Linked DNA regions of Homo sapiens. The protein of the gene in region 2 interacts with the protein of the main gene of each other region in a pairwise test. Each region holds a gene or a part of one and is shown on either strand. Other genes may lie near its edges.

Region 1 (4,456 bases), on a different chromosome or scaffold from region 2:
GCTAGCTAGCTAATCTATCTGTATCTATCTACCTACTTACCTATCGTCTATTTATCTATCTAATCTATCATATCTAGTTATCTATCTACTTACTTATCTAACCTGTTGTATCTAGTTATCTATCTACCTACTTACCTATCATCTGTCTATCTATCTAATCTGTCCATCGTATCTAGCTACTTATCTACCTATCATCTATGTATCTATCTAATCTATCATATCTAGTTATCTATTTATCTGCCTACTTGCCTATTATCTATCACATCTAATTATCTATCTATCCCCCTCCCTGAAATAAGGTTCTTTCTGAGCTGATCATCAGGGAGCAGCAAAAGGAGTGGGGAGTTTGAAACAAGACATATTTGAGTTCTAGTACTGGGTCTCCTACCTCCTGACTTTGTAAATGTTCCCTTCCCTTTCTGGAATACGTTATTTTTTGGTTAAATATAAGGAGGGGGCAGAGAGCTAATAATATCTAACTTGAAGAGTTAGGTAATGATGAAAAATCCTGGCTTTAAAGCGCTCAGTCTAGAAACTGACTCATTGTGTCGGATAATGGGATTGTAGGTATAATGATGATTTTTTTTCACCCAATATTCCACCTACACCCATCTCTCTCTGTAATAGATTCTGTCAATGTTCCTCAACCCATGTTCCCCAGATCCCTTTCCCATTTTTATGCATTCTAGATCGTGGCTTCTTTCCCTTTCCAAAGTGAACATTTGTATCTCTTCTTTGGGGGACTGCCTGGGAGAACTCCAAATGCCTTGGAATTTACATGCCCGGGACAAACTGCCACTGACGGCTGTGGGGACCCCAGCTCCCTAGCCTCTGGTCTTCGACCTTCTCTGTCTCCACTGCTTTCTGCAGGATGGAGCCAAAGATACCATCTGAGGGACACAGATATCCCACACTTGTTTAATCTATTTTCCTCCCAGCCCTTCTTCCCCACTCCCTAAAATGTAATTTTCAAGCCAGGCGTGGTGGCTCACACCTGTAATCCCAGCACTTTGGGAGGTCGAGGCAGGCAGAGCACCTGAGGTCAGGAGTTCGAGACCAGCCTGACCAACATGGAGAAACCCCGTCTCTACTAAAAATAGAATATTAGCTGGGTGTGGTGGTGCATGCCTGTAATCCCAGCTATTTGGGAGGCTGAGGCAGGAGAATCTCTTGAACCTGGTAGGCGGAGGTTGCAGTGAGCCAAGATCACGCCATTGCACTCCAGCCTGGGCAACAAGAGCGAAACTCTGTCTCAAAACTAAATAAATAATAAATAAAATAAAACGTCACTTTCACACTAATGCTGTCTAAGAGCCTGCTTCTGGTGGAGCTGAATCAGAGAACCCCTCAAAAGCAACAATTTTTTTTTTTTTGAGACAGTCTCACTCTGTCTCCCAGGCTGGAGTGCAGTGGTACAATCTCGGCTTTGGAACCTCCCCCTCTGGGGTTCAAGCAATTCTCCTGCCTCAGCCTCCCAAGGAGCTGGGATTACAAGCACCCGCCACCTCACCCCGCTAATTTTTTATATTTCTAGTAGAGATGAGGTTTCACCATGTTGGTTAGGCTGGTCTCAAACTCCAGAGCTCAAGTGTTCTGCCCACTTTGGCCTCCCAAAGTGCTGGGATTACATAAGCCACCATGCCTGGCCATAAGCAACAATTCTATCAGTGCATCTCCAAGGACTTATGAAAACAGGGCAGGAACAGCTGCTCCTGGACTCTCAGTTTCCCCAGATGGAAGCAGAGAAACAGCAGCCTTGCCTTGTCCTTTCTGTTCTCCCCTTTTCCAGCCTACGGTATCTTTCACACAGCAATTCACTAGAAATGAGAAGTACATTATTGCAAAATTCTCATCTTCATATGACCCCATAATCAGCTGAACTGGGTTCACCCTGAGATGTCCACAGATCCTGGCCAAATGTTGCATCAGTATTTGCAAATTGCCAGAATAAATCATAACTTGCTACGCTACTAAAGTCAGCGTGAGCAACAAGATACAGCCTGACACGGGGCATAAATGGAGGCACAGGCACCAGAAAGAAAGTCAAGTCTTGTGTGATAAAATTCATCTTCATTCTCTACATTGCGATTGAACATAGAGTCGTTTTCTAGTGTGTTTTAGGCATATAAATACAGGCTGGGGACATCATACCTGTGCTTACAGATATTTTACTTTTATTTTATTTATTTACTGAAACAGGGTCTCGCTCTGTCACCCAGGCTGGAGTGCTGTGGCGCAATCACAGTTCACTGAAGCCTCAACCTCCTGGGCGCAAACGATCTTTCTGCCTGAGCCTCCCAAGTAGCTGGGACTACAGGTGCACACCACCACGCCTGGCTAATTTTTGTATTTTTTGTAGAGATGGGATCTTACCAAGTTGTCCAGGCTGGTCTTGAACCCCTGGGCTCAAGTGATCCTCCTGCCTCATCTTCCCAAAGTCCTGGTATTACAGACGTGAGCCACTGCGCCCGGCAAAGATATTTTATTCTGTTTAGAATTGTGATGATACAAATTTGAACTCAAAAAGTACATTTTAAGAAATTATATAATACCCACTGGGATGGCTATAATTTAAAAAAAGAAAAGTAAGTGTTGACAAGGATGTGGAGATATTGGAACCCACATATATTACTGGAAGGAATATAACATGATACAGCCACAATGGAAAATGATTTGGCAGTTCCTCAAAAAGTTGAACATAATAGTCACCATATGTCCTAGCAAATCCACTTCTAGGTACATACTCAAGATAATTTACAGCGCGGAGACAAACAGATACTCCTACCACAGTGTTCCAGCACCATTACTCGCTTTAGCCAAGAGGTGCAGACAACACAAATGTCCATCAAAAGAAGAACGGGGCCAGGCACAGTAGCTCAAGTCTGTAATCCCAGCACTTTGGGAAGCTGAGGCGTGTGGATCACCTGAGGTCAGGAGTTCGAGACCAGCCTAGCCAACATGGTGAAACCCCCTCTCTACTAAAAATACACAAATTAGCTAGGCATGGTGACGGGCGCCTGTAGGTCCAGCTACTCAGGAGGTTAAGGCAAAAGAATCACTTAAACCTGGGAGGCGGAGGTTGCAGTGAGCTGAGATTGTGCCACTGCACTCCAGCCTGGGCGACAGAGCAAGACTCCGTCTCAAAAAAACAAAAACAAAAACAAAAAAAAGAATGGATAAGCAAAATGTGGTCTATCCATACAATACGATGCTTTTCACCATGACAAGAAATGAAACATTGATGCATGCTACAGTACAGACAAACTTTGAAAACATTATGCTAAAGAGAAAGGAGCTAGTCACAAAGGATCACATAGTGTATGAATCCACTTACACAAAATGTCCAGAATAGACAAAATCATAGACACAGAGAAGCATATGAATGGTTGGAAGGGCCTGGTGGGAAAGTGGGAAATGAGGAGTGACTGCTTAATGGGTACAAGATTTTCTTTTAGGGTGATGAGAATGTTCTGGAATTATGTAGTGGTGATGGTTATACTACCTCATGAAGATACAAAATGCCAGTGAATTGGACACTTTACAAGGGTGAATTTTTGGACTGTGAATTATATATCAATAAAAAAAGAAAGAAAATAAATGATACAAGAGCTCAAAATAGAAAAGCTTCTCTTCCTCCTCCCCCTCACACCTCACTAGATCTCCCACCTCGTTTCTGATACTTCTGTGTTCCTCTCTCCCATTAGATTTCATATCTTTCTCAGAAAACGTTCCTGACGTGAATTGTGTTCGTAGTGCTAGGGTAGCAGACATTTCCCAAGCCTACTATCATGGAATAAAAACGTTTCAAATAGTTATCTTGCAAGAACACTTTGGAGGATACCTTTTTGAAAACCGATTATACCAGCACAGACTGCTAGCAACAACCTTCAGCAACTTTGGCTCTTTGGAGTAGGTTGCAGGAAGATTATGACTTGCTGAAAGGAAGGATGATTAAGCATCTAGATGCCAATTTATATTCTGCATTTGGCCCTTAAAGTCTGGATGAGTTCCTGTTTCAGCCGAATGCTGCCAAAAGCTCTAACTTTTTAATTTTTTTTTTTTTTTTTTTTTTTTGGAGACAGAGTCTCACTCTGTTGCCCAGGCTGGAGGGCAGTGGTGTAATCTCGGCTCACTGCAACCTCTGCCTCCCAGGTTCAAGCAATTCTCCTGCCTCAGTCACTTGAGTAGCTGGGAATACAGGCGCCCACCACAATGCCCAGCAAATTTTTGTATTTTTAGTAGAGACAGGGTTTCACCATGTTGCCCAGGCTGGTTTCGAACTCCTGACCTCAGGTGATCCGCCCACCTCGGCCTCCCAAAGTGCTGGGATTACAGATGTGAGCCACCTCGCCTGGCCCAAAAGCTCTAATTTTTATGAGAAACTCTGAGGACAGAATCTTAGTCAATTGTTAATGAATAAGCAACATTAGAAAAAAAATTCAATATTCACCTATTT
Region 2 (3,500 bases):
TCCCTAAGGGGCTGGATTCTGCCATCTCCAAGGAAGAAGAGCAGAGAAAGAGGGAGAGGGAGAAACTTTTCTATCTCAACCCTATACATTTCACTTTAACCATAAGGAGACCTACTTCTTGCTTAAGAAATATCTAGACACAACCCTCTCCTACTTTCACACAAAAGTAACTGTTCCCCTCTAATGTAATAGTCTAGTGTAGCAAGATCAATCACAGTGTCTCTAGTCTAAATGAGTTTGTTTGTATGTTTTTCTGACTTTTCTAATTACCCAAGGTTGTTGCCCTGGCCTCTCTTTTATTCAAGGTCCCCTGTTTCTCAATAGAAGGTCTAGGTCCTCTATGACTGCAGTTTCCGAGGTAATTAAACATTTAAACAAAGAGGTCAATAACAGAAACATTGCCGACAAAATTACCTCCACTTTTCGATCTGAGGGGCAAGATGCTGGTGGGCCACTGGTCCAATCACTCGTGCCATTTATACCACAACACTGCAGCTAAAAGCCAAACCCCCAAAATGATGATGGTTAGAAAGTCAACAGTGAAAAAAAGCTGTGGACCTTAGAGGAAAAGGTGTGCCCTTCAGATCTGACTCTATAGCAGAAGTCCAGAATTGGTCTGATTGCTATGGGCTCCTTAAAACAAAGTGCTTTCTAATCTGTTATACCATTTCATTCACATAAGATCCCTGTGGAGTAGAGACCCCTGTGCTTAATCTAGTCACATTTTACAGATCAAGAATAAGGCACCCAGGGACTGCATAATGGAGGGATTAGGCTGACCACCCCTGGACCCACCAACCAATCTTAAGATCACAGAAAGGAGGACCATCAGACATTATGTACCTGCTTACACGATGCAACAGGAAGTGACAGCTATGGCAGTCTTACCACAAAACAAAAACCACATCAAACTTTTAAGTTCATGGGGCTTATGGGAGACAGAGACTCCCTGATACCAAAATACTCGAGGAAGCAACTAGCCTGATCTAGAGAGTGGAGAAGTCTAAAGGACAAATAGCCTAATTTCTTTCCACAAAGAGCAAGAACAAAGAGGTGTACTATTATAGATTAAAAGATAAATAGAGAGACCTATCATTCAAATATAAACACATAGGCCTTGTTAAGATCTTGATTTGAACAAGTCAATTAAAATTTTTTGAGAAAATTAGGGAAATTTAATTATAGACTTTATTAGTGGTATTAAGAAATTATAAAATTTTAGGTGTATTAAAAAGAAGTTCTTTTATATTTAGTGGGTGAAATAATATATTGTCTAGTATTTGCTTTAACATATTCTAACGAAAAAAGTGTGGGGAATTAGATGAGATGACACTGGAAAATGTTAACTATTGAAGAGTTGGGAGATTCATTTTTCTGTTTTTCTCTTTTGTATATTTCTAAAAATTATGTAATAAAAAGTTTTCTAAACTGAATTAAAAAAATAAAGAATTGGAGATCTAAATAAGTTAAGTGACTTCCCCAGGGCTACCCAATTCTGGTCTCCAGGCTCTAATTCCTGTGCCATTTCTTCTACTCCACACTAAGCCAGCGTGCTTTCATAGTGGTACTGTTTCGAGACACAAATAGATTATACTGGTGCAAGGCTCCATCTTTATCTCCCAACACATCATGTCAGGAATGCAGAGCTTGTATATGCTGTACATATACACGTTTGTGGGTGGAAACAGCACATGAGGAATGGGATGTTGGTGGGCTAGGTAACAAGCCTGATTTGGGCAACTCGGGAACTCAATGGCAATTTCTTGTGTTATACAATGCTGTTTTCAGTAAAATTTTGGAAAATACATAAACTAATCCAGTTTGCTGTGTTTGGGTCTTCTTCACATCCTAGCAGAACTTAGAAAATAAACCTATTCATGTTAGAAAAGGATGAAAGAGAGAATGTAGAGAACTTTGTACTAATCAGACTAATTACTGGGCTCCCATGTTTGTGATAGCCAAGGCATTATTCTGGGATTCAGGGATGTGGACCTTAGATTCTGAAACTTCCAGAAAAAGGAACTAGCCCCCAAGGATTTAGGCTTGAAAATGAAGTCTGGGCTGATCTGAAGAGGATTCCACCTGTACTCACAAATGACTGGATGGAGTCCCACGCTGCCTTGGTGCTATTGTCTGAGTGGTAACGGTGGATGCTGTCGGTCAGACCCTTAGCCACATACTCATTCAGCTGGGCAGGCACATTCCAGCAGAGGAGACATGGTAAAAAGCAGGTGAGTTCAAGGAATAAGGAATTTCCAGTATAGGTTAGTGGTTCCACTTGCGCTTCCCTTCCAAATGGTCTCCTCAGAACTAAGGGTGAGGGGAGGGTGTTTATCTATGGGCATACAGGCTGAGCATGAGGTGGCATTGAAGGAAGAAGTATTTAGTAGGCTTGCTTCCTTCTAGAGCTCTGGCTTTACAAGGGAGGAAAAGGAGCAATTAAAGCAAGGGCTATCCTTAGGCACTGAGGCAGACATTCTCTCCTGCCAAACACACAGAGGAAAGCAAGTAGAGGAAGAGACACTTGTTTTACTGCTCTTTCCAGGCACCCCTCAAGATACCACTCAGATACAATCTCTTTCATACAAATTTTCCCCCCAATTACAATTACTCTCTGTTTCCTCTATCCTTCCACTTCATTTCTATCTCTATTATAGAACTTATTCTGTAACTTTGTACCAACTTCTCCACTGCATACTCCCCACTTTCAGTATTAAGACAATAAGTTGTTGTCTTTATAACTTACCTTCTGTTCATATACAAAGAGCAGGATGGCCAAGGTCACCTCAGCAAGGAGGATAATCAGCAGCAGGATGAAGAACTGGGACAAAGCAGATACATTCTCACAGCACTGATCCCCATTCTCGTCCCACTCCCACTCAGCTCTGGGAGCATCCAGGGGCATTTGCACGAGTACAGGGTGTTCCTGTTCTGCCTCCTCAGGCCGTTGTAAGCCTTCTTTTGTTTTGTGAAAATATGTGTTCTTTTTCTACAATTAGACTCTAGAGGGCAGATCAACTGTCTTCTTTGCTCTCTCCTACCTGCTGTGCCTATCAGAGCACTACATGCATAATACATACACACCACCACCTGTTGAATAAGTTAAGCAATTTTGACATCTGCCTATTGAAGCAGTTAAGCAAAAGGTTGGTAAACTAGATCATTTGGGGCCTGGTCCTTTCTACAAGATCAGGGATACCTCTGGGTGGAGGACTGCTGGTAGTGGCTGAGAGGAGCCCTGTACAATGGTAGAAAGAAGGGTCCTAGCCATGGTTCTAACTCATATTTGTTTCCAGCTTTCGATGCTTACTCCTTTTATGCTAATAACACACAACAGAAAACATTTTCACTTATTCCTTCTCCTTCACCTTTTTTACCCCAACATTAATTTTGACTGCTTAAAACATTTGCCTTACCCCATGTCTGCTATCTTCCATCCTTTGCCATTAGTCTGACAACTATCTGAGAAGAGGGACTTTTTAAAAAATTCTTTCTCTTGG

Evidence for each region. The genes of interacting proteins can lie anywhere in the genome.
Region 1: the proteins of CD53 (region 2) and VSTM1 interact in binary tests that used the Homo sapiens proteins (3 or more experiments, as listed by UniProt).

Annotation. Positions count from the first base shown.
Region 1 is NC_000019.10:54,045,942-54,050,397, forward strand, and holds part of VSTM1 (V-set and transmembrane domain-containing protein 1 isoform 1 precursor), read right to left. Parts: intron 2,463-4,456; exon of another isoform or gene 2,374-2,462; intron 1-2,373.
Region 2 is NC_000001.11:110,893,648-110,897,147, reverse strand, and holds part of CD53 (leukocyte surface antigen CD53), read right to left. Parts: intron 2,822-3,500; coding exon 2,747-2,821; intron 2,189-2,746; coding exon 2,093-2,188; intron 496-2,092; coding exon 415-495; intron 1-414. UniProt on the Homo sapiens protein: Structural component of specialized membrane microdomains known as tetraspanin-enriched microdomains (TERMs), which act as platforms for receptor clustering and signaling.